Regions from separate parts of the Homo sapiens genome. Here region 2 is linked to region 1. Evidence: fine-mapped expression QTL. A gene starts in region 1. The other region holds a variant in brackets. All regions are shown on one strand. Distances are between the middles of the regions. Region 1 holds the start of KALRN (kalirin RhoGEF kinase). Region 2 holds the start of LOC105374076 (a long non-coding RNA gene).

Region 1 (15,925 bases):
AAGGCTGGGCTAGGATGGCATTAGAGGGAAAAGAGGGCAACGGATGTTCTCTCAAAGGAAAACACAGGATTAATGATAGCATGGATGCAGGAAGTGGAGGAAGGGGAGGAACCCCAGAAGTCTTTCAGATTCTAGTCTGTGAAATTAGAATAAAGAAGTCGGAAAAGTGGGGAGAGGTGCTGGTTCTAAGGCACGTTTGATTTGAGTAGAAAGCAGGATATACAGATAGATAATTTCATCCAAAGAGGAAAGTTAATGGAAGTGGATAGAAAATCTTTTATCTCATTCGTTCTTGGTGCTTCAACCAGCTCTTAGCTCCTTAATCAATATTCCCAGCTGCCAAGCCCTCTCTCAGCTGCTCTGCCAATTGGACATCACCATAGTAATTGGACATTACTAATTGCTGATTGGACATTACCACCTGGATGCCCATCATCACTTCAGACTCCTAACATAGGTGAGGAAATGTGTGTGATAGGGAAACACCATGGGAACCCGCCTAGGACTCATGAATTCTGGGGTCTGCTGTGGATCTTCAGGCAAGTCACTTTACTCTCTACTTTTCAATCTTCTTGTTGTTGAAATGAGGGGTTCGATTAAGTAATATTTTAATCACTTTCCTCATCTTTCCCCAGATTGTTTTCTCCTCTCTCTCTAGAGGAAAAATTTCTCCTTTAGAAGCCGATTTTTCCTGTTATGCCGTTGTTTTCTCTCGGTTACCTAGTGGTTCTTGGACTCCTGCTCACCCTGGCTCACTCTTTCCTGCCCACACCTGCTTCTCTCCATATATAAGGCATCAACACATGCTATTATGTTTCCTTTCTCATTGCCTTCCACAGCTTTCCATTTCAGTCACAGCCACAGCTTCGTTGAAGTACTTCTACACTATTCTTTGGACTCCGAACTCCTTCTTCCAGTCTCCTAGGCTCATCTACCTTCTGAAAACACTTCTTCCATCTTATCCCATCCTGTCCCTTCCTTCCTTTAAATCTCTGAGTAGGGGCGGAGCAAAGGGGGTGTATGTCAAGATGCCTTGGGAGCTGTTTCTAAATACATAGACCTGAACATAGCTCTTCCTTCCTCCACTCTGGCATTCTTATGCATCATGGGAAAAAGTTTCTCCAGCTGATGATTTTCTCCCTGTCTCTCTCTCTCACATCATTGTAAAGAATCCACATTATGAAAATTTAAATATTTTATGGACTATAAAAGTCCCCTCAAGATAACTGGTATTTCCTTGTAAGCACATGTAGCTTTATCCCATTTACTTAAAAAATTGATTTTTAAAACAGTTTTATTGTGGTATAATTGACATTTGACAAATTGCATGTATTTAAAGTGTGCAATTTGATCAGTTTTGACATAAGCATACAGCCATAAAAGCCATCACTGCAGTCAAGAACATATCCATCGCCTCCAAAAGTTATGCCGTTCCCATTTATAACTCCCCTCTCTCTCCCTTCAGCTCCCAGTCTCCGACTCTGGTCATCTCCAGACAATCACTGATCTGCTTTCTGTCAGTATAGGTTACTTTGCATTTCCTAGAATTTTATAAAAATGGAATCACCTAGAATATACTCTCTGTTGTCTGACCTCTTTCACGCTCCATAATTATTCTGAGATTCATCCAAGTCCTGCATAGTATTCCATTGTATAGATATATCACAATTTGTTTATCTGATTGCTTGTTGATGGATTTTTGGATCACTTCCTGGTGTTGGCTATTATAAATGAAGTTGCTATGAACATTTGTGTGCAAATCTTTACATGGATATATGCTTTTATTTTTCTTGGGTAAATACCAAGAGTGGAATGACTGTGTCACATGGTAAGTGTATGTTTACCTAGTTAAGAAACTGCCAAACTGTTTTTTGAAGTAATTGTACCATTTTGCATTCGAAGTGTAAGAGAGTTCCGTTTTTGCATCCTCTCCTCATCCTCACCAGCACTTGATATGTTCAGGCGTTTTAATTTTAGACATTCCAATAAATCATCACATCTCATTGAGCTTTTAGTTTGCATTTTCCTCATGACTAATAGTATTGAGCATTATCTCAAATGCTTATTGCTGTCTGTATATCTCTAAAGTGAGTGTCTAGTCAAATCTTTTGCCCAATTTTAAAAGTTGGGTTGTTTGTTTTCTTATCATGAAGGTCTGAGAGTTGTTTATATATTCTGGACACAGAGAGATGGCAGTGTGAGACTGATTTGGCTCATCATTGTTGGTTTGGAGATGGAGGAAGGGAGACACAAGCTAAAAAATGCGGGTGTCCTCTAAAAGCTAGAAAAAGTAAAGAAGTGGATTCTCCCCTAGATCCTCCAGAAATGACACATCCCTGCTAACATCTTGATTTTTGCCCAGTGGGACTCATTTCAGACATCTGACTTCTAGAGCTGTAAGGTAATAAAATTGTGTGGTTTTTTTTTTTTTTTTTTTTTTTTTTTTGAGACGGAGTCTCGTTCTGTCGCCCAGGCGGGAGTGCTGTGGCGCGATCTCCGCTCACTGCAAGCTCCGCCTTCCGGGTTCACGCCATTCTCCTGCCTCAGCCTCCCGAGTAGCTGGGACTACAGGCGCCCGCCACTGCGCCCGGCTAATTTTTTGTATTTTTAGTAGAGACGGGGTTTCACCGTGGTCTCGATCTCCTGACCTCGTGATCCGCCCGCCTTGGCCTCCCAAAGTGCTGGGATTACAGGCGTGAGCCACCGAGCCCGGCCAATTGTGTGGTTTTAAGCTACGAAGTTTGTGGTAAATTTTTACAGCAGTCATAGAAAACTAATACAGATTTTTCAATTGTTCAAGCACCATTTGTAAAGACTACCATTTTTATACTGAATTCCCTTTGATTTTTTTTATAATTGAAAATCAACAATAGCAATTGATGATATACATATGGGTCTGTTTCTGGACCCCATTCTAGTCCATCAATCTATTTGTCTATCTTTACACCAATACCACATTGTCTGGATTACTATAGCCTCATAAATGTCTTGAAATTGGGTAGTGTAAGTCCTCCAACTCTCTTCTCTTTCGTTGTTTTGGCTTTTCTAGGTTCTGTTCATCAAATCAACTTATAAATTTCTACAAAAGAGCCTATTGGGATTTCATTGAATCTAAGATCAGTTTGGGAAAAATTAATGTCCTAAGGATTTTGAGTCTTTGCAAAATTCCATGACACAGTATTTCTCCCCATTTACTTAGATCTTCTTTAATTTCCTTCAGCAATGTATTTTATCTTTGAGTGTATGAGTCTTACATATTTTAAAAATCAGGCTAAGCCTTCAAATTTTTATTTCCATGCTACTATAGTGATGTTTTAAAATTTCAAGTTCTAAATCTTCATTGTTAGGTTATAGAAATACAATTTAATTTTTATATTGGTCTTATACTCTGAAATCTGGCTAAACTCGTTATTAGATCTACTAGTTTAAGAAATATATATTTCATGGAATTTTCTAAGTAGCAATCATACCATCTTTGAATACAGACAGTTTTACCTCTTCCTCTTCAATCTGGGTGCCTTTAATTTCTTTTTCTTATTGCACTGTACATCCAGTACATTGAATAGGGGTAAGAGTAGACATCTTACCTTCTTCTGATCTTAGGGAAAAAGCTTGCTGTTAACTATAGATTTTTGGTAGATGTCCTTTATTAAGTTAAGAGAGCCCCTTCTATTCCTAGTTTGCTGAGAGTTTTGTTCAGAAATGGATATTGGATTTTTGTCAAATTATTTTCCTGCATCTACTTAGATGATCACATGGTATCGCTTTTTTAAATTTAAATTTTATTTTATTTTTTGAGACATGATCTGACTTTCATGCCACCATGTCCGGCTACTTTTTGTATTTTTTGTAGAGATGGGTTATGCCATGTCGCCCAGGCTGGTTTCAGTCTCCTGGGATCAAGGGATTTGCCCACCTTGGTCTCCCAAAGTGCTAGGATTACGGGCGTAAGCCACCATACTCGGACTTGTATTGCTTTTTAAATATGGTATATTGGTTTCCTAGGGTTGCTGTAACGAAGTAGTGCAAACTGGGTAGCTTAAAATAATAGACATTTATTCTGTCACAGTTCTGAAGAGAAGAAGTCTGAAATCAAGTGTTAGAATGGCCATGCTCCCTCTGAGACTCTGGGGAGAATCTTTCTTTACCTCTTTCTAGCTTCTGGTGGTGGCTGTCAATTCTTGGTATTCTTTGCTGCTGCGTCACTCCAATCTCTGCCTCTGCCATTACATGGCATTTTTCCCTATGTGTCTCTGTCTTCTCTGTCTTCATATGGAATTTTTTTTTCTTCTTATCGGGACACCAGTCATATTGGATTAGGGTCCATCCTAGTGACCACATTCCAAATTTGATTATATCTGCAAACACCTTATTTCCAAATAAGGCCACTTTCACAGCTACCAGGGGTTAGGACTTTAACATACCTTTTTTGAGAATACAATTCAACCCATATCATGTGGTAAGTTACATTGAATAGTTTTCCAAATGTGAAACCAACCTTGTATATGTGGGATAAACCCACTTGGTTATGATGTATTATCCTTTTTATATATTGTAGATTTTATTTGCTAAAATTTTATTAAAAATTTTATTCCTAATAAATATTCCTAAGGAAGTAGTCTACATTTTTTTTCTTATATGGCCTTTGTTTAGTTTTGGCATCAGAGTAATGCTGGCCTCATAGAAGTAGTTGGGAAATATTTCCTCCTTTTCACTTTTCTGGAAGAGTTTTTGTGGAATTGATATTATTTCTTCCTTAAATGTTTCATAAATTTACCAAAAAACCCATGTGAATCTTGAGTTGTTTTGTGTGTGGGTGTGTGTGGGGAAAGCTTTTAAGCTACAAATTTAATTTCTATAGTAGATAAATAGCTATTTAAGTTAGCAATTTCTCCTTGAGTGAACTTTAGTAGTTTGTGTCCATCTTATGAAAGTTGTCAAATTTGTTGGCATAAAGTTGTTCATAATATTCCCTTATTATTATTTTTACATTTATAGAATTTGTAGTGATGTTACCTCTGTCATTCCTGCTAGCAGTAATTTGAGATTTTTCTCTTATTTTCTGATCAGTCTGGGTGGAGGTTTTTTTATTTTATTGATCTTAAAGAACCCACTTTAGTTTCATTGATTTTTTTCTTTTGTTTTCCTGCTATTTTATTGCCTTCTGCTCTGATCTTTTTTATTTCTGTTCTTCCACTTTGATTTCGTTTGCTCTTACAGTAGAATAGGAGCTTATTGATGGGAGATCTTTATTTTCAAAATAGGTATTTAGCACTATAAATGTCTTTCTGCTTCAGCTGCATCCCACAGATTTAGACTGCCTTAGCTGCATCCCACAGATTTTTATGTAATGTGTTTTCATTTTTATTCACTTTGAGATTCTTTCTAATATCCCCCTTTTAATTCTTTTTTTGGTGGGGGTGGCAGGGGACAAAGTCTCACTGTGTCACCCAGGCTAAAGTGCAGTGGCACAATCTTGGCTCACTGCAACCTCTGCTTCCTGGGTTCAAGTGATTCTCATGCCTCAGCCACCAGAGTAGCTGGGATTGCAGGCAAACGCTACCATGTCCGGCTAATTTTTGTATTTTTAGTAGAGATGGGTTTTGCCCTGTTGGTCAGTCTGGTCTTGAACTCCTGGCCTCAGGTGATCCCCTGGCCTCAGCCTCACAAAGTGTTAGAATTATAGGCATGAGCCATGGTGCCCAGCCCATCCTTTGAATTCTTAGTAGCTCATGTGTTATTTAGAAGTGTGTTATTTACTTTCCAAATATTTGGGAGGTTTTTCTAGATTCTTTTTGTTATTGATTTCTAGTTTAATTCTATTGTGGTCAGAGAACATACTCTGATTTTTTTTTAAAAACCAACTTAGGTATAATTTATGTACCTCTTTGCATGATTTTAATCCTTTTAAATTTATTGAGATTTGTTTTATGGCTTAGTGTATGGTTTATCTTGACAAATGCTACCTGTGCATTTGAAAAAATGTGTATCTGCTGTTATGGAGTGGAATATTCTATAAATGTCAGTTAGGTTAGGTTGGTTGATAACATTGTTCAAGTCTTCCATATCTTTACTGATGATCTGTCTCCTTATTCTATTAATTACTGCATTTTACAGATATTAAATTATCTGACTATAATTATAAATTTTTATATTTCTCCTTGCAATCCTATCAGTTTTGCTTCATGTACTTTGAAGCTATCTTATTAGGTGCAAACACTCTTAGGATTGTTACGTCTGCTTGATGAATTGAAATGTTCCTCTTTATCCCTGGTAATATTCTTTGCTTTGAAGTCTTCTTTGATATTAATATAGCCATGAACACTTAACATTTTAATAGAAGTTGCCAAATTTCCTCTCAAAAAAAGTTTGTGTCATTACATAAGGTGTTCCCCCTTTCTTGTCTATATCTTGAGATTTTGATATGACCCTTCCTCTAAACATGTAATGTTTCTTCTGAATTGTGATGAGCTAATGCCTTGCCAGGCCACTGGTTCTTTAGCTGCACAATGGTGGCAATTAATTAATAGCAGCTCTGCCATCACATATGTGTGTGCGGGGGTAGGGGAGCAGACCAGGGGTTAGGCAAAGGATTAAGGGGAAGGAAGATTTTGAAAAGACAAATGAGAAGTATTTTCATTGTCAGAAAAGGCATAGGCAAAGGGGCATCTTAAGCCAGTTCAAGATACTAGGGCCAGATGAATTAGATCTCAGGGCAGTGAACTTGTGATGTCAGAGTCACTACAGAGGTCTGATAGATGTACTCAAGGTTGGAGACAGGTCTGATAGGTGTATCCAAGGTTGGAAACAGGTACTTTTTTTTAATGGGTGAAAAAAAATTAGACTGTTTGTGTCAGTGAAGAACGTGATGCGTACAGGGAGCCAGAAAGTGTTCACTAAAAACTAATTTAATTCATTTTATTTGCTACAAGTTTACACAGTTGGTGGATCTGCATAGGCCCCAGTTGCCTTGGCCCCCAGAGAGAGGTGGAACCAAACAGGTTACTAGAGACAAACAGATCCAGGAGATTCTGTCTGATGGGTTGCAGTCATTAACTTCAGACCAGTACCTGGTTTTCCTATTAGGCGTGTTTTAACACATTAGGTCAGGCCACCACTTCTCCATCTGTCTGGATGAGGCAACAGCGAACAGCGCTCAGCAGACCTTATTAAGTACTCAGGTCTTAAAGACCCTCTGTTTGGTGGGCTCTGTAGTCACTAGAACCATAAACACACTACTGGCTAATTATTGTTTAATTATTGCTTAAAAACTGATGGGCACAATACAATCACCGCATTAATTACCCCATACAGCATCTGTTTTCTTTTTTGCAGCCATCCCCATTCCTCCCCAGCCCCTCTCCCCACTTTAATTGAAATTCAGCTTGCTGTAACACCTCCTTCCTCCTGGCCAACTGGATCTCTCCATTCACATGAGGGAGAACAAAACCGAGAAGGCCCCAGGGATTAGAGAGTTTTGACAGCTGTCCAAGAGGAGCGCGGAGATACGGGCCAAGTACGGAGGCAGGACAGAGACAAACGAGGGACAAGAGAGTGACGGAGGGAGGGAGAGATAGGCAGGGAGACATCACAGGAGCATTAAACTGGACAAAGAGTCACAGAGACAGGCGGAGATGTTTAAAGGGGCGCTGAAAAGGGGAAAAGGACGAGAAAAGATAAAAAGGAGAGAAACTGTGGCGAGCTGGTGAGGAAAATGTGAGAGGCTCAGGAGGGCAGGGAGACAGAAGAGAGCTCGTCAGGAAGGAGGGGAAGAAAGGCCGGCCTCTAGGGACAGGTCAGTCCAGCTTGGAGACCGATCTGAAGATCCAGAGAAGGCGGGCGGGCAGCCTGGTGGTCCCCTCACACACCTGGGAGTGGAGTGGACGGAGGAGGTGGCCGCGGGGCCGGGAGGAGCACCGGCGGCGCGAGCGGAGAAGCTGAGCGCGCAGCGCCCGGGCCGCAGAGCCCCCTGGACAAGCCTGGCGTGTGCCCTGCAGCCCCGGGCTCGCCCGGCGGCCCCGCCCCCTCCCTGGCCCGGGCTTTTCCTGCGGAGCTCAGGAAGCCGGCCTAGCACAGCCTCGAACAATAGCTCGGGACTCGGGCTCCGCTCCCCGGGAGGCCGGCGCGGGGCCGCTGGGACTGGGGGCGTAGGCGCCGCCGGGGGCCCGCAGCGAGCCCTCGGCCCCGGCCGGAGCTTCAATTCAGCTCGGCGCTCCCGGGGTCATTGTTGGCCGGGACTGAGGGAGCGGGAGCCGGGGGAGGAGCTGGGGAGGCGGCTGCTGCGGCGGCGGCGGCGGCGGGAGCCAGAGGGGGAGCTAGAGAGCGAGCGAGCGAAGGAGGGAGGTAGCGAGTGAGCGAGTGAGCGAGGGAGGGAGGAGGTAGGGAGACAGGGAGGGTGGGAGGGAGGAGGAAAAATAAAGAGGAGAGAGCGGAGCAGGGCTGAACAATAGAGACAGGCAGACGGGCGAGCAGGAGAGCCAGCTGCCGCTGCTGGGGGACAGCGGGCGCCCAGGCAGCCCGCACCCCGGCCCCGGGCCCCGGCCCCAGCCAGACAGCAGGCGGCCAGCGCCCTGGGGAAGGGGTACCATGGGGGAGCTGGCGGCAGGCACCCCCAGCCCGCCGCGCGCCTCCGCCTGAGGGAGGCTCAGCGTCCTCTGCCCCAGCCCCGCCGCCCAACGCCCGCCCTCGAAGCTCCGCGGCCGCCAGCTCTGCGGCCGCAGCAGCTGCGCCCCGCGCCCTCCGCCCACCGGGCGCCGAGCAGCCCTCGGCCCCAGGCTTCTTCGGCTCCCGGCTGCCCGCGGACGCCCTCCCACAGTCATGAACCCCCCTGAGGGAGCAGCGGAGGAAGGAGGAGCAGCAGACTCGGACGTGGACGCCTTTTTCCGGACAGGTAAGCCGGGCAGGGCGCGGGGGGCCAGGGCTGAAGGCTACTGCCTCGGACGCGGCGTCTCGGACAAGTTTGGGGAAGGAGGGCTGTTGCTGCCGCGTGCGTGTTGGGGGGCAGTGCCCCCTCGGCGTCGGGGCTGGAGTTGCCGAGATTCTGGTTGTTATGGCAGTGCTGGCTGCGTCTGGGGAGGGCGTGGGGGCTGGGAACTCCGCGCCCCTCCGCCTTCACCCCAGTTGCGGGAGTCTGTGTTGGGGAGGTGGGAGGCGGTCCCCTCGGACCGCCTTCTCCCAGAGCGCGGGGATGGGCGGTGTTGGCTCACTTTGCAGCGCGCCGCTCCGGCTACCGGCGTCCCGGCCCCTCCCTTGGCTCCCCCTCCCCTGTGCCTGTCAGCGGGGCTCCCGGCGGCCGCCCTGGGTCGGCACCCCTCCTCGCCGTCGGGGGCCCGGGGCCCTGATGTGCACAGAGGGGCGGCGGGGACCCGGAGCCGCGCCGGCTGCAGACTGACAGGAGTGGGGCGGAAGACATCGGTCTCGCCTGGTGCGTGTGGGGAGCTGGTCCCTCTGACTTGAGAGGCAGACCCAGCTGGGAGGGCGGTGGGCGCCTCGGACCTCCCCCTTGTCCTCCTCTTCAGTTCTGGGAACGGAGGAGCTATTCATAAGAATTACTCATTCCTGGAAGTGTGAGTTAGCGTCCCTCTCATACACACCCACTAAGTCTCTGCTTGCTGTGAGGTGTAGAGCCCTGAGATGTCTTTCTAGCTCTTTGCGCCCCTGCCATCGTCCAAGTCCCGGGTCCATTGCTCCTCCTGCTCCCTGGCTACACAGTCCCTCCCTAGAACCGGCACTGACCACCCTTATCTTCCACCACCTGTGGCCCTGTTTCTCTGATGGCCAGGGATTCCCCGTCTCCCTGTACCTGTGGCTTCCACCAGCTTCTGTGTGTAGCTCCCCATCTCCCCACATGTCTGAAACAGTTTTGTCTGGAATCTTTGTCCCAAGGAGTCCAGTAAGTTACCGGGGCCCCATGCATCTGCTCTCCCTTCTGGAAAGTTGGATTAGAGGACATGAACTGGTGGGGGTCAGGGGTCAGGTTAGCTCTGGAGGGTCTCTGCACATCCATCTGTTTCCTAACCCTGTTACCTTGCCCTGGAGGTCATCTCTAGGGAAGGGGGTGGGGTGCTTTGCGGGGGAGACTTGTGGCTTTGGAAGTCAAGACTTGATTGGCTCATATGTTCATTCTCTAGTTGATGTGCAGAGGAAAAAACTGGAGGACAGGAGCTGGTGCCAGGGTCTGGGGAAATCAGAGGGAGCCCTGTCATTCTATTCTGCTTCCCAGGTCTAAGCCTTCTTTCCTTTTCTTTCTTCCTCCTTCCTTCCCTCCTTCCTCTTCCGAGACATGGATTCTATTTTCTTTCTTCTCTCTCTCTCTCTCATACACACACAGCCCAGCACCCAAAAGCATGGATTCTAAAGAGGTGGAATCTAGGGAAAAGGTGGTTCTGGGGGCTAAGTGATATTCAGAAATACTCATTATGAGGCAGAGGAGGGGAGATATGGGAATTCATAACTGGGACTAGAAACAAATTGACCAGTCAATCAAAAACCCAGCTGACCCCCCTTGCCTCCCAACTGGGGCAAAAGTCTGCATTTTCTTAGCTCTGAGGGAAAAATCTTGAAGTGTGAGCCTTCCCACCTTCCCTTTCTGGACTCCACTTTTACCTTTTGGTGCCCACTCCTCTTTCCCCTTTCCTATCATCCAAACACTAGGTCCTGTTCATTTTCTGTTCCAGGCACCCGTAGCAGAGCTCAGTTCCTGGAGGCTTGCTTATTTCTGATAATAAATTCACACAGTGTTAATGGCCAATAATAGTCCAATGTGTTACTTTTCCCAGGGCCTTTCAAAACACAAGGTGTGGCACACATTATCTAACCCTGGCTCAAATCACAGAATAAATAGCAGACTGGGGTCAGTCTCCTGTGGGATTCCTATGTTGGGGATATTCTCCCTCCTCCTTGGGCAGCCCAGTGGCTGAGCTAAGTCTGATGTGCACTTAGTATCAGAGAAAGGTTAAGTCATTGGTGCATGAGGCTGGAAATGACTGATGACCTGTAACATGTTGCAAGAGGGGGTAGGTCAAGGACTACATCCACCCTGTGTGGCCCTCTATGCTTGGCTCACTGACTGTCACCACACTTCTGGTCTCTAGCCTAGGCTCTTGCTGGGGATTCTTCTTCTTCTTTTTATTTTTATTTTTTGTTGTTAATTTTTATTTTAGGTTCAGGGGTACATGTATGGGTTATATAGATAAACTGTGTGTCACAGGGGTTTCGTATACAGATTATTTCATCACCTTGGTAATAAGCATAGTACCTGATAGGTATTTTTTCTGATTTTCTCTGTCCTCCCACCTTCCACCCTCAAGTAGGCTCCGGTGTTTGTTATTCCTCTCTTTGTGTCCATGTGTTTTCATTGTTTAACTCTCACTTATAAGTGAGAACATGAAGTATTTGGTTTTTTGTTCCTGCGTTAGTTTGCTTAAGATAACAGCCTCCACCTCCATCCATGTTGCTGCAAAGGGCATGATCTTATTCTTTTTTATGGCTGCATAGTATTCCATGATGTACATGTACCACATTTTCTTTATCTAGTCTGCCATTGATGGGCATTTAGGTTGATTCCATGTCTTTGCTATTGTGAACAGTGCTGCAATGAACATATGCATATGCGTTGGTGGAGATTCTTAAGCTTAGAAAAGCCATGTTTCTAAACCTTCTCCCTTCTGATTTCCCATCTCTGTGGAATATAGCACTATACCTGATAGGCTGGATAGATTATAAATGTATTCTATTGAACAACTGAGAAAGCTTCAAACAAATTTTCAAAGTCCCTAGCACCAGGGTTACCCCTTTCTTTCTGATGGAAAATTTTGTATGCACAAGGACCAAACTGGAAATTGCTTTGTCAAAATTCTGGCATACTGTGCTTCTAATTAGGCATGTTTCAAATTATTCTGTCATTTTGGTTCCTTGTTTGTCCTCTTCTGATCATTTTGGTGTTTCAATCCCTTGACCAATTGGTTAAGCTAGATTCCCTAAATCTCACTTCCCTGTGTGCACATGGACACAGACATCCCACCCTACCCAGCCTACTATTCTAGATTGGTAGACTCCAGATTGTCTTCTTGGGAATTCTCTGTTCCAAGCCTGAGAAAGTGTGTTACAGTAATTTTATTGATCATAGTTATGAGGCAGAGGAGGGGAGTTATGGGAACTGATAACTGGGACCAGAAACCAATTGACCAGCAATCAAAAACAACTTTTCAATTATCCCTAGAGGCTTCTGCTGTCCACGGTGCTGTGGAACACAAAAGAAATATTCGAAGTGGTCTCTGTCCTCAAAGAACTTCTGAAGAAGATTGACATTTACTGTTCAATTAGAGATTTATTGCTAAGCGTTGTGGTGCTATAAGTTAAAAAGTTGGCAGAACTACAGAGGAGGTGGAACTTCGGGTGGTCCTTGAAGGATGAATGAAGAATGGGCAGTGGCACATGGGAGTTTGGGCATTGAAGAGCCTGGGCTGACATAGAGGAAGATGTAGGTTAGTGAGGAATGGGAAACAGGATTGGAGAAGTGGGGCAGGGTCAAATAGGGAGAGTCTTGAAAGCACAAGAGTGGAGATTGGATTTGATTCTGGGGCAGTAGGGAGTCATTATGGATTCTTGAACAATGACACATCATGAAAAATGTGGTGTTTGGAAAGGTTAATCTGGGATAATATGATTTAATAAGTGGAGAAGAGAAGGGTAGAATCTAGGGAGATGCAAAAGTGATCTGGAGGTGAGGGGGAGGAGCTTTGGTCTGGGTTGGTGGCAGAAAGGATGGGGAGTCAGGGATGCCATTGAGACACATTTTTAGAGGTATAAGTGTGGGGACTTGTTGATAATCTAGTGATGGGGGAGAGGAAAATGAAGCCCATGAGGAAAATGAAGTAGCTGGGTTGAGGAGCCTAGAGGACTGACAGTGTCTGACTGATGGACAGGTGTGGGCTGGTTGAAGACAGGACCTGGTTTTGCAGGGCAGATAATGTTGTTAGCTTTGGACATGAAGCATGGGGGGGGCGACTCAGGGAAATCCAGATGGAGTTGTTTTGTCAGCAGTTGGAAATGTGGGACTCAAGACAGGAGCATGGGCTGGAGGCTAGGGCTGTTGATGTTGATTTGGAAGGTTGGATGCAGCCGAAGCTTTGTGAATGCATCTGCTGTCAGAGGGAAGGAGTAGAGGAAGAAAGGGAAGGGTGAAAGTTAGATTTTGGGGTAGAAATTCTTATTGCAGAAGTGGCAGCAGAGGAGACTTGATCCTAGAGACCCCAGGGAGTCAGTGTGGGCTCTGATGTGATGACAGGCTGCAGACAGGTTGAGCAGGAGGAGTGCTGGGGCATGATGAAAGAAAGACCCTGTGCACTCCAGGAGCACAGGATTAGAAGAGGTGTTCAGAGGAGGGATTTGGGGTGGTGAGTGGGAATCAGCTACTTGCAGAGTTTATCAGTGAAAGGAAAAAGAGGTGTGTGCTTAGCCAGAAGGGACGTTAGTATCCAGAAAAGGAATTTTTGTTTTTTGTTAGAGTCACAGCAGGTTTGGAGGTGGCAGGGAGAGAATGTGTGGAGAGGAAAAATTGAGGAGGCTAGAACGAGTGTAGAGTTTGATACCTGAAGAAATGAGATAAGAATAGGTTCCCTAACAAAAGTAAGAGTTTAGCTTTGGTAAGCAGCAGAGAAACCTTTTTCTTTAAGGTGCAAAGGAAAAAAAGTAAGAAGATAAATGAAAAGAGTGATGTGGAGATATTTTCTACCTCTGTCCTTCTGTTGAGCATTGGTTCTGTGAATCTAGACATTTTCAACTGAAGTGTTTGCAGTTACTTGGGCTTCAGCCAATCTCAGACTCAACTCTGTATATCTTTCCAACTCCCCAAACTAGCTCTTCCTCTTGACTTTCTTAATTCTATAAGTGACACCTTCACTCTCCCAGTCATGATATTTAAAACCTTGGCATTGTCTGTGAGGACTCTCTTTCCTCCAACAAACCCTGTTGAATTATCTTTCATAGTTAGCTCTTGCTGCTCATTCACAGGGCATGGCCCCAGGCCAGGCCCCATATGCCCCCATGGACTCCTTTCCTGGCCCTCATTCTCATCCCTTGGAAGCTGTTCACTTAGCCCCACTCCAAATTGGACCTGCAGACACATTAAACTTCCTAAAGCACTACTTTCATCACACCACTGCTTGGTGCTTGAACCTTCAGTAACCCCCTAGTGCCTTCAGGGTCAAGTGTCGGCCTCACAGCTCAACTCCAGCCAGGCTGCTCTCCACACACTGCCCAAGGGCTCCTGCATTCACAGTCTCCTTGGATCAACCACCCCGGCACCCTCCAAATCCAACACAGTCTTTAAGACTTGATCCCTGCCTTCTTCTGGGAGCTTTCACAGCTCACGATGACAGCCCTTTGAATTACTCACTGTCTGTACTCATTTTCTCACTTCATTAGTATTGTATTGTTATTTAGCCTTTCCATACATGAAGGCTTGTCTCCCCCATTGAAGTTATTTGTTCTTTGGAGGTAAGAAAAAGGATCTTTTTAAAAGCTTGTGATTAATCAAAAAACACCCCCTCACAATATAAATCAAACATGGCAAAATATAAGCAGCTATTGAATCTAAGTGATGGTTTGTTTATATTCACTGTATGATTTCTTAAACTTTTTTCTTAAATAATAACCCCATCACATCTAGGCAGGGAACCTTAAACTATTGTCATGTCCAGATCATATAGAAGGGAGATTTGGGAATAACAATCTATGTTGGTATGCAATTCCTTGAGTAAATGTCACCGCCCAGTCTGTACATTGCCAGGTACCTAAAAAGGGAGGAGTCTCTTACTTCCTGAGCTTTCTTTTGCAGCAAAGGAAAACATCTCTTTTTTTTTTTAAGTTATGCTTGATGCTCCAGAGTGTAAACACGATGCTTAATTTAATGCTTGTTGTCCCTTCTTGATCTCCTCCACTTTCACCCATTATGAACTGGGCTTTTGGTCACATCATTTTTCAGGAGCCTTTGGGGGAGTATTGGGAAGACTTTGTGGTTCTGGAGAGGGAATGTTGTTAATATTTCTAATGCTATATTTTTATAGGCTATTTCTACTATTAATATATTTTAGTACATATCAGTGACATCCAGGTCCACCTCTGTAAGATTTGGTAAGCTTTGCTTCATCCTTGTGCCACAAATCACCAATAACTTTATTACTGGTACATACTGTCCAGTCGTATTTGATAATCCCTTGAGGGATGAAAGGAGGTTTTAGAATAAACTGAAGCTACAGAAAGAAATTAGCTGAGAAGTAAGAAAATCTTCCTGACTATAAATAAAATCAATAAAACACTATAAGGGGTGAACTAGAGGTTCTTCTTAGATGTTGGAAATGAACACTTTTTACTTTTCAAAGTTTTCTCTGGTTCTGGTATTTGATAGTTTACTGCTGGAGGTGGTCAGTATGGTATAGCCCAGTGGTTCTCAACAAGGGCAATTCTCCCCTCCCACCCCCCATCATAGAACATTTAGCAATGCCTGGAGACATTTTTTTGGTGTCATAACTTAGGGAGGGTTTGCTACTGGCATCTAGTGGGTAGAGGTCAAGGGTGCTGCTAAGCATCTTACAATGCACAGGACAACAAATAATTATCCAGCTCCAAAATGTCAGTAATGCTGAGATGGAGAAACGCTGGTATAGCCAGAGGATGACAGGCTTTGGATGGAATAGGTTCAGCACTAACTAGGGATAGGATCTTGCATTAATTATTTAATATCTCTCATCCTCATCTTCTGCAAAATGGGACTGATAAAGCTTGTTTCACAGGTTGAGAGTATTAAGTAGGAAAAAACATGTATGGAGCATCTAGTGGTCTCTGACACACTAGAAGCACAAGAAATCCTAGTTATCCCTGTTGTTCCTGCTGTTTTAATTATTAATTGAATGTGATGGACAGA
Region 2 (15,925 bases), 550 kb after region 1:
CTGACCTGTGTGATGGGGGTTGTGCTGACACTGTGAGTGTTGGGTGTATATGAGGGGACCACTCTTTAATTCAAAGAAGAGCAGGACAGAGAGGAGTTTCGTGGAAACTGCCTCAGGCCTGCTTTGTTCTGGTTGAGATGTCCTGCCTGTGGCTACATCCATCTAATACTATTTAGGACATGAAAGGGCTTAGAATCAAAGCCTCAAATAGGAACATGTCAGGGCAAGCCACATCCTTCTCTAAATACAACTCAGTGTCGTGCTGTCTCCAAGTAGAACTGAAGCAGGAAGACCCAGGTGTCCATGGAAAGAGCTGGTCTCTCTGGGTCCCTCTGCAGAGATCCTGCATTTTTCCCTTTTGTAGCCAGCCTGCTGTGACTTTGCTTATGTTAAATGCCAATTTCAACAGCATGTTTTCATGCCTGCTGGTGCCCACTGTAAATCTGTGACATCTACATGATGATGATGCCCCTTATCATCCAGAGGGGAAGTCAGGGGCAAACTTGAATATGCTCTTTGGAGCCAATGAACCAGCTGATGGAGCTCAGAGCTAAAATGAGAGCCTCAGGATTTGATCCCAGAGAAGAAAGGCTGCCACTGACTGCTTTCTGAGAAGAAGCTGGAGATGATAGAGAGGAGGTTACCCCAGCAAACAGAATGTTCCCCCAGAGGAAAGATGGTGCAGTTTTCTTGCTTACAGCTAGCTAAGCTGAACACTTTCCCCCTAGAAGAACACGGGGACCCAGGAATGACATGCACTGAATGTGACTTGAGGAAAAGAGAAGGCAAGGCAATGGTCTGGACAATCTTGGGATGTGCCCATCCTGTCTGCTCAGGGAAGGGCAGAGATGGGAGGACCTCAAAGGCCTTGAGGAGCAGCCCTTGCAGGCCACAGCTCTAGGAGCTCTCAGCAACAGGATTCTGCAGGACAGAGCAGTCAGCACCCTCCTCTCACCGCCACACTGCCTTCCCTGTCTCACTTGCTCCTTGAGAACAACTCCTCACCGAGGATCTATGTGGGGGTGAAACTGCAGCCTTAACCCAAACCCTGCAAACAAGCATGAGAAGTCTTTCCATTTACTACTAATTGCCATTCTGAATACCAGCCCTCTGCCCTATGGGCAGTTACTGAACAGCCTGCCCCTTTCTTTGCCCTTGTGGTAGGACTGGGTTGTCTTGTTTTCTCCCCGTATCCACTAACCCCAGCCAGAATCTTGATTCTCAGATTGTGCCCACTTGCCTTACTTTCCACATGGGCCTCTAGGCCACAGGAAGTCTGGCTCCTCACCTTTGTACACAGGAGGGCGAACAGATAATTGCCCCGTTGCTTGCCCCCAGCTGCAGGGAGGTGGCCCAGGCTGAAGACCCATCTCAGTTCAGAATGTTCCAGTGTCTCCTGTCTCATTTCCAGTAAAACGAAGTCCTTTCTGTGACTGCAAAGAGGCTCCACAAAACCTGTTCTGGAGCCTATTCTCTGACTTCATCTCCTATGTATTCATTTCCTGTTGCTGCTGTAACAAATTACCATGAACATGGTGGCTTCAAACAACAACACAAACTCATTATCGTACAGTTCTGTGGGTTGGAAATGCAACATGAGTCCCCATGGGCTAAAATCACAGTTTCAGCAATCAGGGCCACATTCCTTTTTGTAGGCTGTTAGGGAAAAGCTATTTCTTGCCTCTTCCAGCTTCCAGAGACCACCACACTTTCTCCATCTTCAAAGCCAGCAATGTTGCATCTTTCTGATCCTCCTTCCATGGTAATGTTTCCCCTGGGCCACAGTGGGAAAGGTTCTCTGCTTTTAAGAACACCCACCATTACACTGTCCTCACCAGAATGATCCAGCATAATCCCCTTGCCTCGAGGTCCCTAACAGAATCACATTTGCACAGTCTCTTTTGCCATATAAGGTAACATATTTATAGGTTCTGGAGAGGAGGATGTGGACATCTTTGGCGGACGTTATTCTGTCTACCATTCACCTGACCAGCCTGCCTCACTGAGCCATTACCAATCAAGCCATGCATACGCTCACCTCAGGGCCTGATCTTTTGTTCCCTCTGCTTGGAACACACCAGATACCCCAGATCCTCAGAGACTTGGATGTCTTGCTGTCACACTTCCTTCTGCTTGAATGTCACCTGATTAGAGAGGTCTTCCCTAACTCCCACCCTCTCCCATCACAGTGTATACTCCCTTCTCTGTTTTACTTTTCTTCATTGCATTTATCACTACCTGACATATTTGTTAATATTCCTCTGCAAATCCCCCCTACCAATACAGGGATTTTGTCTACTGTGTTCATTGCCCTATCCCCAGCATCTAAAACAGTAGCTGCCATGTAAGAAGTTCTCAGTAAATATTTATAGAAAGGAGGGACGGATCATGCATCAGGGACCTCTGCAGAGTTCTTATGTGAAGGACCAGGCTCAGCATGTAGAACGGTAAAGGAAACTGGCTTAAGCTTTAGCAGGAGGACTTCAGGATGGGAATGGGGAATCATGTTCTGATGCTAGGAGTCCTGATTGAGGAAGTCTTCTCTGGGGACGTATGGGTTAAGTACCTCTCATTTATTTGGACTGGTTGAAGGATGAGCAGGTCATTATCCACATTCCATTATTGGCAGATGTACATCCTTTCTATTATTGGAAATCCTCAATAAACTCACCTGAGTTACATCAAGACAAAATCCACTTTCCATTTGACTCATCAGAAACCTCTGCACTGTACTCCGTGAATGTACATGCTGCTGCAGCTGCTATTTGTGCCTGTAGGAGGGAAGGTGGCGTTGGCAGAATTAAAATGCCATCCCACATAGTGGACACTTAGCAATCATAAGTTTACCTTAATTGAAACTCAGAGTGATAGACTGGCACTCTTATACTGCCCTACTTTGGGAACACTTTGACCTACTTAGAGGTAAACGTTTTTGGAAGTAGATAAAACCTGGAGTGGTTTGTTTTTAGCAATTCCAGCTGCAGCCATCTTTCACTTTGATAAATAGCTCATCTGCCCCTGAGCTCAGGCCAGCTCAGGCGGCTGCTCAGTACAGATATCCAGGAACCTGTCCTTGTTGCCAGCAGTTCTTCCTCTCTGTCCTCACAGAAGAGGAATGTTGGCCATTCTGGGGAGACATCTGTGTCCTCTCAGTATGGCCTGAACCACCCCCCTACCTTGAACCTGGTTCAGACAAGACAGTGATCAGTAATACTTCCTGGAAAAAAAAAAAAGAGGGTGGCTGCAGGCTGAGCTGGGGCCTCTCTTAAGGATAAGTGAGACAGCTAGAAAGAGGCAAACAGGTGTCAATTGGGCAAGTACAGAGGAACACATTTAAAGGTCAGTAGGTGAAGACATATGGACTGAGCTCAGTAATGGTTCAGTCATTAGAGTCCAGGAGCTGTCTGTCACCAAGTGGATGATGGTACCCACAGGGCCAGCAGTGGTGCAGTGGTTAGACCACACTAAACAGAGATAAGAAGGAGAAGAGATTACTATGCGTGATTCTGGCAAGCACACTTTTTCTGTACACCTTACTGTTAAAATAACGCATATTACCTGGGAATGGTTACCCACACAGATATTATACACTTTTGAAAAAAAACATATTTGGGCTGGACACAGTGGGTCATGCCTGTAGTCTCAGCACTTTGGGAGGCTGAGGTAGGATGATTGCTTGAGGCCAAGAGTTCAAGACCAGCCTGGGCAATGTAGTGAGACCCCATCTCTATAGGCAGGTGTGGTGATGCATGCCTGTAGTCCCAGCTACTTGAGAGACTGAGGTGGGAGCCCATGATTTTGAGGTTACAGTGAGCTCTGATTATGCCACTGCACTTCAGCCTGGATGACAGAGCAAGACCCTACCTCCAAAACAAAACAAACAAACAAACAAACAAACAAAACCCCCCACCATATTTGGAGTTCAAATTAAATATAGAAGCAATGTACACATTGTACCTCCTCTCTCTAATTGAAGTGTTTCTGGTTACTGATGACTATTGTCTCAATTCCTCTTTTTCACATAAAGAAGAAACCCCAACCTTATGTCCAGTACTATTCTGTTTCCATTTCTTTTTTCTTCCACAGAAAATTAAACCAACTTCTGCTAGAATTCACCCTGTTCTTCTTTGTCTTTTCTCATGGAACAGGCCTTATTTAATTTACATTTTCCTTATAAACTCCCATGTATAGGTTAGCTTAGTGACTTACAAATAGTAAATATTCCAAGACCAATTATTTGTTGAATAAATGATTAGTACTTGGAAAGAATCTTAGATGTTTAGGCCACAGCCACAAATGGAGGCCAGGGCTTGGTAATTTGGGAATATTGATTAGCCATCCCGATATCAGCAATCAGGCAGTTCATAGATCAGAAATCTACACAGGGAAGATGAGAATTAAGGAACCTGCAGTTAGCAACCAGGGAGCATGGCAGGCAGTGGAAGAATGGGTCAAGGGACCGATTGTCAGAGTTTGAGAAAGTAAAACCATTTGTGTTCAAGTGTTTCCTAAACTCTACAATGCAGGAACTCATCCACAGTGTGAGTGGCCTTGGGCCCTAAAGTCCGTGGTTCTCAGCCATGACTTCACATTGAAATCCTCTGCAGAGCTTTTTAAAACCCATAGATTGGCCGGGCTTGGTGACGCTTGCCTGTAGTCCCAGGTACTCGGGAGGCTGAGGCAGGAGAATCACTTGAACCTGGGAGGTGGAGATTGCAGTGAGCCAAGATGTGCCCCTGCACTCCAGCCTGGGTGACAGAGTGAAACTCCATTTAAAAAAAAAAAAAAACCTATAGAATCCAAATATGGGGGTGAGTGCTACAGGTGAGAATCACCCCTGTGGGGAAAGGAGAGCAAGGGAATGGTTGGAGTGGAGTTAAGGAGATCAGGGCCTGGCCTCTGCACTCACCAGGAACCATGATCACGGCTCACCAAGCCTATGCTCTATAAAAGGTCACAGTAAGAAGGGTCTCCTATGAATCTCTAGGCCTGAATTGGGGCATGGTTGCTGTTCCTTCTTTCTCTATCCTGAGCTTTAAGAAATGTGGGGAAATGATTGTGATTTAGTAAAATTCTTTTCCTGTCCATCTGAAGAGAATAACCCTAAAGGAAAAAAAAATGGCATATGTCTGTTAGTGTAAGAGACAGGTACCTGAGGTCATGGTCCAGTGTTACTGAAGACTGTGGTTAATGTGGAGGGAGAGGCAGTCACACTGGTGCCTGATGTCAGGCCTGACATTGTGGTACACCTGGCCTACTACATCTGCAGGCTGATACCAGAAATTCTTTGGGGTTCACTGTTGTTGGAAATGAGGGTGGGACATAAAGTGGTCACGTAGGTAGGCAGAAAGCCTTATTCATGTAAAATGGACTTAGGCTGCAGGTATCACTGAAGACAAAGTCTGCCAAAAATATAAATGAGACTCAGCCATCTAGTTGAAAAGTAAGACTACTTTAAATATATTGCTTATAGCTCAGGAGCTTTTAGCCTGAACTTTGGGAGTGGGTGGGTAGGTATGTGAAAACCCTGAAATAATAGACATTCAACTGGCTTACACAAAAAGGAATGTATAAGCGAGGGGCGGGCACAAGTAAGGTCCAGGAATAAAGCTTTAGGAAGAAGCCTCTCTAGCTATTCAAATGATATCATGGGAAACCTACCTCTCTCTCTCATCTTTTCCCTGTATTGGCTTCATTCTCGGAGAGCTTCTTCCCACATTGTTATAGCAAAATACCCCCAGCTGCTTTAGGCTAACATTCCATCAACTTAGAAATCTTGTTGAAAGGGATGGCTGTTTTCTCAGATGTTCTTGCTAAGATCACAAGGTTTATGCTCATTGCATAAACTCGAGTCATGTGCTAAATCTGAACCAATCCCTGTGGCTGCCTGGCCACACCCAGGTCATGGGCTTATCTTTGGAGTAGAGGGTGGACAAGGGGAAGATGTCAGCCACACCCAGAAACATGGTCTCCAAAGGGAGGAAGGCTGGTTCCTCAAAGACAAGTCAAGGTGCTGTTACAAAAAGAAGAGGGCACAAATGCCAAATGGGCAAGGACAATGTCCGAATCTCGAGTAGGTCTCCATGTGTTTCTGTACCAACAACATCAGCATCACCTGGGAACTCATAGCAATGCAAATTCTCAGGCCCCACCCCAGACCTACTAAATCAGCAGCTCTGGGAATGGAGCCTAATAATCTGTGTTTTAACACACCCTCCAGGTGATTCTGATGTATACTTGAGTTTGAGAACCACCGCACTGCACCAGTGGTTTTCAAACTATGCTGCGTATTACAGACACCTGGGGAACTTTTAAAATACTTGCGCCCAGTTGCACCCAAAGTCAATTGATCTAAATCTCAGGGTGTGTGTGGGGGTGGGTGGGGAGGGGGGACTCAGGCAGCAATGGCCTCAGACTTGGTTCCACCTCAGAGCCTAAAAAATGCTAATGCCTAATATTTTTAAATGCTTCCCTCCTGATTCTTATCAGCACCAATGTTTTAAAATCATATTCTCCACCATCCCTTCTAAATTGTCTTGAGAATATTAACTTAAAACATCTGGATGCAGGCTGGAGAATCTAGGCATCTATTAACCCTCTCAACTAATAAACCTGGTCACATATCTGATGTGGATTCACTTTTCTCTCACATTCATGATGAGTCTGTCCTAGTAGCTAGCTTCAGAAGGACTGAAATTGTTTTTGTTCACCAATGTAGACCCAGTACCTAGAACAGAGCCTGACACAGAGTAGGCACTCAGTAAGTATTTGATGAATTAACGAGTAGGTCCACAAACAGTTAGTGTCCCCATGTTGTTTGAGATTTCCTTGATGGCCAGGTGTGGTGGCTCACACCTGTAATCCCAGCACTTTGGGAGGCCGAGGGGGGCAGATCGCTTGAGCCCAGGAGTTCAAGACCAGCCCAGGGAACATGGCAAAACCCTGTCTCTATTAAAATAATAATAATAATAATAATAATAAAGGAAAGGAAAGGATTTCCTTGTTAGGTTATAGACATTGGCTAGTCTCATTCTGGAAGGCATGTAAGGATGGCAATGGGACTCTTGGGTTATTGGTGTCTAACCCTAGAATGAATCTCCATGATGGCCAAAAATGTGTTGACCTTGCCAACTTAAGATAGGAAGAGGTTCCTAATGGTTTTATGCCTTTAAATTGAGAGTAGGATGAATTCCTGGGTTATAAGAATTAGTAGAGGCTGGGTATGGTGGCTCACGCCTGTAATCCCAAAACTTAGATGTGCATGGTGGTGCACGTCTGTATTCCCAGCTACTCCAGAGGCTGATGCAGGAGAATTGCTTGAACCCGGGAGGCAGAGGTTGCAGTGAGCCGAGATCGTGCCACTGCGCTCTAGCCTGGGTGACAGAGTGAGACTCTGCTCAAAAAAAAAAAAAAGTATCGGTGGAAACATGCCCAGTGGATCCATTTTGCCTATAGTGGACTACTTTAGGGTCTACTGGTATTTGATTTCTAAAGTAAGAGTTGGGTCTTTCTCAAACATGTAACTCAAGCCAGTTTCAGCAGGATGAGATGTCATTAGTCTCTTGCAAAGAATTGTGACAAAAAAGTGATCCAGTGTTATCTGAACACAAAAACCAAGAGGGAAGATTTGAGTAAAAAACAAACTGGTTATTCCCCATGAAATTTTGAAGCATCTTTGAATTCCCATCATAATGCCCCCAAAGTGTAAAAAGAGAGGGATTGGGTGGGTAAACCAAATATTGAACCTTGGACCATAGCATCCATACTATGGATCACAAGCAAATAAAGTTAATTTTTACAGACAGTTTTGGTCTGGGCTTGCAAGAAAAACAAAATAGGTATTGTCTTTGGTGACATGGAAGAGAGAACTAAATAATAGTGCTGGTTGTTGTGGGTCAGAACTGGAACCCAGGATAACTATGTGAGGATTAAGGATCCTGCAGTAATTCAGTCTGGCAAAATGAGACTGACCAATTATCAGGATGGTCAGTGAATCAGGAATCTTGGGTGCAGACAACATGAGCTATTTTTTTTTTTTTTTTTTTTGAGACAGAGTCTCACTCTGTTGCCCAGGCTGGAGTGCAATGGTGCGATCTCCGCTCACTGCAACCTCCGCCTTCCGGGTTCAAGCAATTCTCCTGCCTCAGCCTCCCGAATAGTGGGGATTACAGACATGCATCACCATGCCCAGTTAATTTTTGTATTTTTAGTAGAGATGGGGTTTCACCATGTTGGCCAGGCTAGTCTTGAAGTCCTGACCTCAGGTGATCCGCCCACCTTGGCCTCCCAAAGTGCTGGGATTACAAGCGTGAGCCACTGCGCCCAGCCAACATGAGCAATTTGAACTGTAATTTCTCTGTTTTTGTATGTGTTAGAAAGAGCACCAGAGATTCATTTCCTGCTTGACAGTGACGTTCTTATGTAAACCTTGCCAAGAGAAACCATCAGGGAGATGGCAGTAGCAGAACTAGAGGGTAGATTTTTGACTTTATGTTCTACTGTTCCAAAGGGGTGAAGCTTTTTAGAGCTTTTCTTTAGAATTAAACCATTAAAGCCTCATCATAGTTTATTAATTCAGTTTCTTCAAAGGTAAAACAGGACACTACTTTACAAGGTTTTTTTATGAGGATAAATGAGATAGTATATGGAGAACATGGAGGAAACTGCTTAGCATATAAATGCTCAATAAATGTAAGCTATTATTACTCATTAGGTCATGCTTCGATCATTTACTGGTATCCCAACCATGTGGCAGATGCCTTGGCACATTTTTTTTGGGGGGGTTGAGCTGGGGGGGATGGGGTCTCACTCTGTTGCCCAGGCTGGAGTGCAGCAGCACAATCATGAGTCACTGCAGGCTTGACATCCCCAGGCTCAAGTGATCCTTCCACCTCAGCCTGCCAAGTAACTGGGACCACAGGTATGGTCCACCAAGCACCGCTCATTTATGTACTTATTCATTTATTTTTATTATTTGTAGAGACAGGGCCTCCCTGCATC[G/A]TTCAGGCTGGTCTTGAACTCCTGGGCTCAAGTGATCTGCCTTGGCCTCTCAAAGTGCTGGGATTACAGGCATGAGCAACCATGCCTGGCTGTCACATAGATAAATAAAGCACAAATCTAAGCATGGTTCCAACTGGGAAAGGAAGCCCCAAATCCTGGTAACTTTTAAAAGCCTTGTCCCATGAGTGTGTTTCTTCCAGGAAGGCATTGGTTACCTGGGTGATCAAGCTTCTGTTTTTCATTCCTCCCACAAACTTCCCTTTTTTCTGATGAATGGGCCCTCTTTATGAGTGTTGTGTGTTTCCAGCAGGCCCTTTGCCCTAAAGCTGGACACAAAGGAATGGGAGAGACACCCTGTGAGTAATACAGTGGTTCATGGAAAGGTCCCACTGATGTGGTCCAAGTGGGCTTCAAGGGGGTTGTGGAAAGCAAGCTTGGCCTTGAAACATGAAAAAGATTTAAAAGATAGGGATAGGGATATAAGTAAAGGAATGATAGGTCTACTGGGCATATTGGGCCGAGGGGATGGTGAATGGAAGTCTTGCACCGTAAGTAAGATGTTCGAAGTTTCTCTGTAGGCATTCATTCACCTGGAAATATTAAACTTCACCTCTGTAACAGGATGTTAGCCCAGAAACATGGCCTGAGAAGGGAGGAGGACTGGTTCCTCAAAGACAAGTCAAGGGGCTGTTACAAAAAGAAAAGGGGACAGTTGCCAAATAGGCAAGGAAAAAGTCTGAATCTCAAGTAGGTCTCAGTGTGGTCCTATACCAACATCAGCATCACCTGGGAACTTGTAGCAATGCAAATTCTCGGGCCCCACCTCCTACCTACTAAATCAGCAACTCTGGGAGACATCCATAGATATTTTTAAATTCTACCATCGGCTGTATGTGGTGGCTCACATCTCTAATCCTAATGTTTTGGGAGGCTAAGGCAGGAGGATCACTTGAGCCCAGGAGTTCAAGACTAGCTGGGGCAACATAGCAAGACCCGAGACCCTGCCTCTATTAAAGAAAATTTTTTAAAGAAAATCTACAACCGTGGAATATAGGAATTCTTTTACATTTTTTTTTTAAATGGGGAAACTGAAGATAAAAGGTGAAGTGACTTGCCTAAGTTCAAACAGCTAGCAGGTGGCAAAACTGAGCTTTGAAGGTTGGTTGTATGATTCCAAACCCAGAGTGTGTTTTCACGTCATTACAGTTGGAGAGCTGATCAATATGAGGCACTGTTATCATTATTAGTAATCAGCATTACACGGAAGGAAAGGAAAGGGTTGGGGACGGTGTTTTCAATACAGAGGAGGCTGTGGGGAGGGAACGGGTGAGGCTGCGAGGAAGAAAAGGGCATCCTTGAGTCTTGGAGCATCTAAGTCTGCCCCTCTCTTACCTCTTTGGCCCCATCTAGTTGTATTTTTTAAGCCAACGCCCATTGTGGTGGCCTTTGAAGGGAGGAAGTTGCACATAAGGAGTACCTACCTGTTTGGTGCCAAGGGCTCAAACTCCACCCGTTTGCCCCGTGCCCACAGCGTTGGTGCCACAGGCAGCGTTACATGAGGCTCCGGCCGCTGCTGGCCAGGTCTCCTGCCCACAGCTGGACCTTGGAACTCCGCCCCTTAGGCCCTCCCTCCCCGCCTGGCCCCTCCCCGCTTCCCAAGGTGGCAGTGGCTCCCAGTAAGTCAGAGCTGCGGCCGCGGTGCGGGGAGAGCACAGCGGGGAGGGCGGGAGCCGGCTCTCGGGCGGCGGCGCTGAAGTTTCCTTCCCGCCGCGCTCTCACCCCGGGCTGGCGCCCCGTGCCATGCGGGAGCGCTGGGGCGGCGGGGCAACATGAAGGGCGGCGACAGGGCTTACACCCGAGGTCCCTCTTTGGGGTGGCTCTTTGCTAAGTGCTGCTGTTGCTTCCCGTGTAGAGGTGAGTGGCTGTCGGCGGCCTTGGTGCCTTCTGTTAGCCAGACTGGTCGCGCTCAGCGCGAGGGAGGGTGGTAGGGAGGGAAGGGTTGGGGAGGCCTCTGGGGTAGGCGGATGGGGCTGGGGATCAGGAGGGCGGCGAAGTGAGAGAGTTTGCTGCGATCCGTTTCACAGTTTCCCAGACAGAACGCGCGCGCTCGCTGGCTGGCGGTGAGGTTCTGACTTGGATGCGGAGCTGCTGTTTGGGAACTCAGTCACCTAGCAGCGACTTTGGATGTCAGGGCGCCAGCCTGCTAGGGAGTGGGATGCGGACGCGGGGGTGGGAAGGGGACGCAGAGCCGCGTGTGTCCCTATAGTGGCGGAGAAGTACCTCACCTCTCATTTACACATGGATCTCAGCTGCGGGATTAACGTGTGACTCCTGGCTACAGGAATGTGTTTGACACCTGTCTGTACACCAGGAACTATTTTTGCCAAGTGACAATTTTCTCGTGGGACTGGAGCACATTTTTTTCTGCCTGGGTTTTCACAGGCCAGCGTGGATTTGTAGCTCCGGGCCGGAGCTTGGCTCATTAATTAACAACTCTCTCTGTGCCCAGTTAGGACTGTATTTAATTATTCTGCTAATCTTAACGTCGTGGAAGAGACTTGCAGGAAGCAACCAATTTCCCCCAAAGCAGCCGGCGAACAGGAGGGCGAGAAGGATCACAGAGGGAGGGTTCTCAATTGTGTGGCTTCTTCTGAAAAAAAAAATCAGAACCTTCCCAAATAGGATAAGCAGATGCTCCTAAGGCTGTTCATGTCACTTTAACACACGCTAGGATAGCGGGGGAAGACTGTTTTTGTGTGGGTAGAAATGAGAATGTAGCCCCCTACTTGACATTTGCCCTTTTAAAAAGTTTCACCTTTTGGGCCTCTGGCCTCCACCCCCATTTACAATACCCCACCCAGTCTCCCATCCCATCTGCTATGCAAAATCCTAATGGAACTTTCTGGCTGAGTTACTGGTGAATAAACTTCATCCAAGCCACCTTTCAGCATCCTCTGTGCCACAAACACACAACATAGCCCTGAGAAATTTTCTATCCTGAGCAGATATAAGGTTACCAAAACTAATTAAATCTGAATGACTTTTCCTGCGCGTCATTAAGGTCATAATCTTAGCATCAGATGGTCTCAATCTCTGTATTTAATTAGAGCAGCCTGGAACCGTGTGGTTTTGAGCTCTAGAAACCAGAATTCAGATGAAGAAGGAATGTGAGGGGCCAGGGACCCTCTAAGTCTGATTCAGAAACATTCAAAACCAAGGCTGGGAATTGAGGGAAAGGGGGAATAAAGCGCGGAGGAAGCAGGAAATGGCCAAGGGGAATCTGAGTGGGTGGGTTCGCTCGAAGGCTGCCCTGCTTTCCCCGCAAAGAGTTTCTCTGCAGGATTTCTTGGGAGTCCGTTTCCTGTCAGACAGAATGTGGGGGCTGGGGTGGTGCTTATCTGAAGTCCCCACAGCTGCCTCCTTGAGTCCAGATGTGTGACAGCCCTGGCTGCCCTTCAGGGTAACTCTCTGGGCGTCTTGCTGGCCCTTGCTTTGTTGAGGAATTGCCCGACTTTCACTCTCGCTGTGATGCAGGGGAGGGCTGGGGAGCTGGCTCCAGGGCCTGGTAAGTGCCTCCTGCCTAGGGCCTGTGAAGGCAGTGGCTGCTGGCTCCGTGGCTAGGAGAGGAGGCGTGCGAGTGGCTATCGTAGGAGCGGGAGCTGAAAAGGCTAGCGACCCTCAGATGAAGACTGAGGGAGTCAGAGGTCCAAGCAATGAGACCAGTTTAAAAGGGAAAAGAAGGGTGGCAAGGTGGGTGCCCGGGGCCTTCTCCTGCTTTACTCCTCACTCCCCTAGATCTGAAATGTGTGAAGATGAAAAACGGGCTCATCAGAGGACGATGGTGGGGGAGGTGAGTTAGCCACTCTCCAAAGAAAACTCCTGCCTGTGGCTAGGCTGGGGGTCGTGTCTGAGGTGTTGGGCATGCCCTGAGGCTCCCTCAGGCTCACTCTAACCGAAAACAGTCTCCACTCAGCCTGTAGGCATCAATTTGAAAACAGATTGAAAAGATAAGGTCTGTATTGAGCCTGAGTGCATGGCCCAGAGTCCGTGGACTCTTTGGGAAGAGGCTTGCCCAATTGCAACACCCAAAAGGGCTGAGGGGAGAGTCTTGAGGCTGTCTCTCAAGTGGAGGGTGTGCACTGCAGGGGACTGACTGCCTCCCTTTTCAGTTGAACCAGTTCCTCTGGTCTTAGGGAAAATACAATGGAAAGGCAACCTCCACACTCCACCTTGTAGATAAAGGCGGCCGGTTGTTTGGTCTCTATCCCTTCTCTCTCAGGGAGAACTTGGCTGTCTCCTGCGGCTTGAGTAGCTTGACTCTGAAGCAATGACTCAGAGCCCACTGCTGTGGTTCCCAAGGCAAGGGGACTTGACCATCTGACTTCCAGTCATGCAGGATTTAAAGGATACCTCCTTCTAAAGTCTGAGGAAAAGGACAAAAGTAAAAGAACCAAGAGGAAGTGGAATGTTTTGGCTATTTTTGACTTGAAGCTAAGTGAGCTACATTGGGATTTCTCTGGTGAATTCTGAGTGGTTGTAATTGTCATCACTAGGGTCAGAGTCAAGGATTTAGATAAAGTACCTGTGTGGTCTTTAAATATCACATTTGAGGAAAATATGGATGAATTTCACTGAACTTATCTTTTGATTTGGAAGAGTATGGAAAGCGACTATCTTGTATTTTTCCCTCCACCCCCACCCTCCACTTTTTTTTTTTTTTTTTTTTTTTTTGATACAGGGTCTCACTCTGTTGCCCAGGCTGGAGTGTAGTGGTTTGATCATGGTTCACCACAACCAGGATCTCCTGGGCTCCCACCTCAGCCTCCCAAGTGGCTGGGACCATAGGTGCATGCCACTACCCCAGGCTAATATTTTTATTTTTTGTAGAGACAAGGTCTCACTATGTTGCCAGGCTGGTCTCAAACTTCTGGGCTCAAGTGATCCTACTGCCTCAGCCTCCCAAAATGCTGGGATTACAGGCGTGAACCACTGCACTTAGCCTTTTTGGTTCTATTGAGTATGAGTACAGAAAGCAGGTTTGATGAAAGATGATTTTTCTTCCCTATCTTGAAACTGGTGTTGAAAGGCAGGAAAACTGAAAACCAAGGATAGAAAGGAAATAGATATCGGGTAAGAAGGAAGAAAGAAGGCAAATGCATTTATAACTGCCTTTTTGAAGGTGAAAAACAACCAAAAGTGAGATAATGGCATGCATGTGTCTAAGGGGTGATAAATCATTGATGTCACACTCTGTGGGGAGTTAGTTTTGGGATAGCTTTGACTAGCTAGACTGTCCTTCAAGCCTGAAAAAGTGGGTCAGTTCAGAAAAGATTTCAAATCACCTGGAAATTGCTAAGTTATGTATTGCACTGGAATTTGTGATCAAGGAGCCCAGAGATTTTTCTGACCTTTCTAGGTAGAAGCCAGTTTTAGAGACTTAATTTTGTTTTGAGATGGAGTCTCGCTCTGTCGCCCAGGCTGGAGTGCAGTGGGACAATCTTGGCTCACTGCAACCTCTGCCTCCCAGGTTCAAGCAATTCTCATGCGTCAGCCTCCTGAATAGCTGGGACTACAGGCGTGCACCACCATGCCCGGCTAATTTTTTGTATTTTCAGTAGAGACGGGGTTTCACCATTTTGTCTAGGCTGGTCTTGAACTCCTGACCTCAAGTGATCCACTCCCCTCGGCCTCCCAAAGTACTGGGATTACAGGTGTGAGTCACCGTGCCCAACCAAGAGACTTAAGTTTCTAGTCAACTTTCATTAGCTTTAGGTATGTGGACAAAAGTCCCCTTTTGAAAGCTTTTCCTGATTACCATCCTCCACAGTGTGCATGGGATTTATTTATACTTGTTTATTGCTGTATCATTGTCCTTGCATCCCAAGCCCACGTGCCATTGTGTCTTCACATTTAGACTGAGATAGTCCAGCCACCTGAACATCTCAGAGGTAAAGAGAGGAAGGAGGTGGGACTTACCCAAACTGAATCACTTCACTGGGGAGGTGCAGGGATTGGTTTCTATGATTCTTTCTTTACTTGGGTAGTCCTTCCTGCTTGTCTCTGATGTCATGGGCTTTGGGTAAGTGTATGGGGATTCACAGGGCATCCAAAGGCATTTTTATCTATAACTTTGTCTTATCCTACTTTGTTCCAGAATTCTCAGCCAGAAACCTTATGACTTGACGTAAATATCTCTTCCTTGGTCCTTAAATTAATATAGCCCATTTGATAAATGGAGTTTAATATGTGAAACCGTGACACCAAGTTCCTTTACAAAGGTGTTGGTAACTGCAAAAAGGAACCATTATGACATTCACTGTTGTTGACTTTAATTCACCATCCACTGTAATCCCAGCACTTTGGAAGGCCAAGGCAGGAGGACTGTGTGAGCCCAGGAGATCAAGACCAGCCTGAGCAACATAGGGAGATCCCATCTCTACAAATTAAAATATTAGCTGGGTGTAGTGACATGCACCTGTAGTCCCAGCTACTCGGGAGGTTGAGGTGGGAGGATCGGTTGAGCCCATGAATTCAAGTTTGCAGTGAACTATGATGGCACCACTGCACTCAGCCTGGGTGACAGAGTGAGACCCTGTTTCCAAAAAATAAACAAAAATAAAAATTCACCATCCAGGGGATAAAATCCTTGGGGCCTTGATGTGTATCCTTTTATTTCTTCATCTTCTAGGAAATGCCTTTACCATGATGGAAACTGAATTGATTATTTAGCATATACAGTTGTCCCTCAGTAGCCACAGGGGATTGGTTCCAGGAACCCCTGCGGGTACCAAACTTTAAGGATGTTCAAGTCCCATAGTCGGCCTTATTGAATCTTCAGATACAAAAAGTCAGACCTCTGTGCCCATGGGTTTCGCATCCCACAAATACAGTATTTTTTGTCAGAGTTTGGTGAATCTGAGGATGT

The links. PIP is the estimated chance that this variant, and not a neighbour inherited with it, causes the effect.
Region 2: its variant is fine-mapped to the expression of KALRN in thyroid (GTEx, PIP above 0.99).

Annotation. Positions count from the first base shown.
Region 1 is chr3:124,024,924-124,040,848 of GRCh38, forward strand. It overlaps KALRN (kalirin RhoGEF kinase), which reads left to right and starts at 8,446. Exons shown (of 60, transcript NM_001388419.1): 1 at 8,446-8,890. The coding sequence starts at 8,818. RefSeq lists a silencer at 7,962-8,421.
Region 2 is chr3:124,573,993-124,589,917 of GRCh38, forward strand. All of the region lies in intron 34 of KALRN (kalirin RhoGEF kinase), which reads left to right. LOC105374076 (a long non-coding RNA gene) reads right to left here and starts at 10,567. Exons shown (of 4, transcript XR_001740872.2): 1 at 10,482-10,567; 2 at 2,672-2,771. RefSeq lists an enhancer at 3,707-3,996 and a silencer at 10,791-10,970. The variant G/A (reference allele first, on the strand shown) is at 9,001.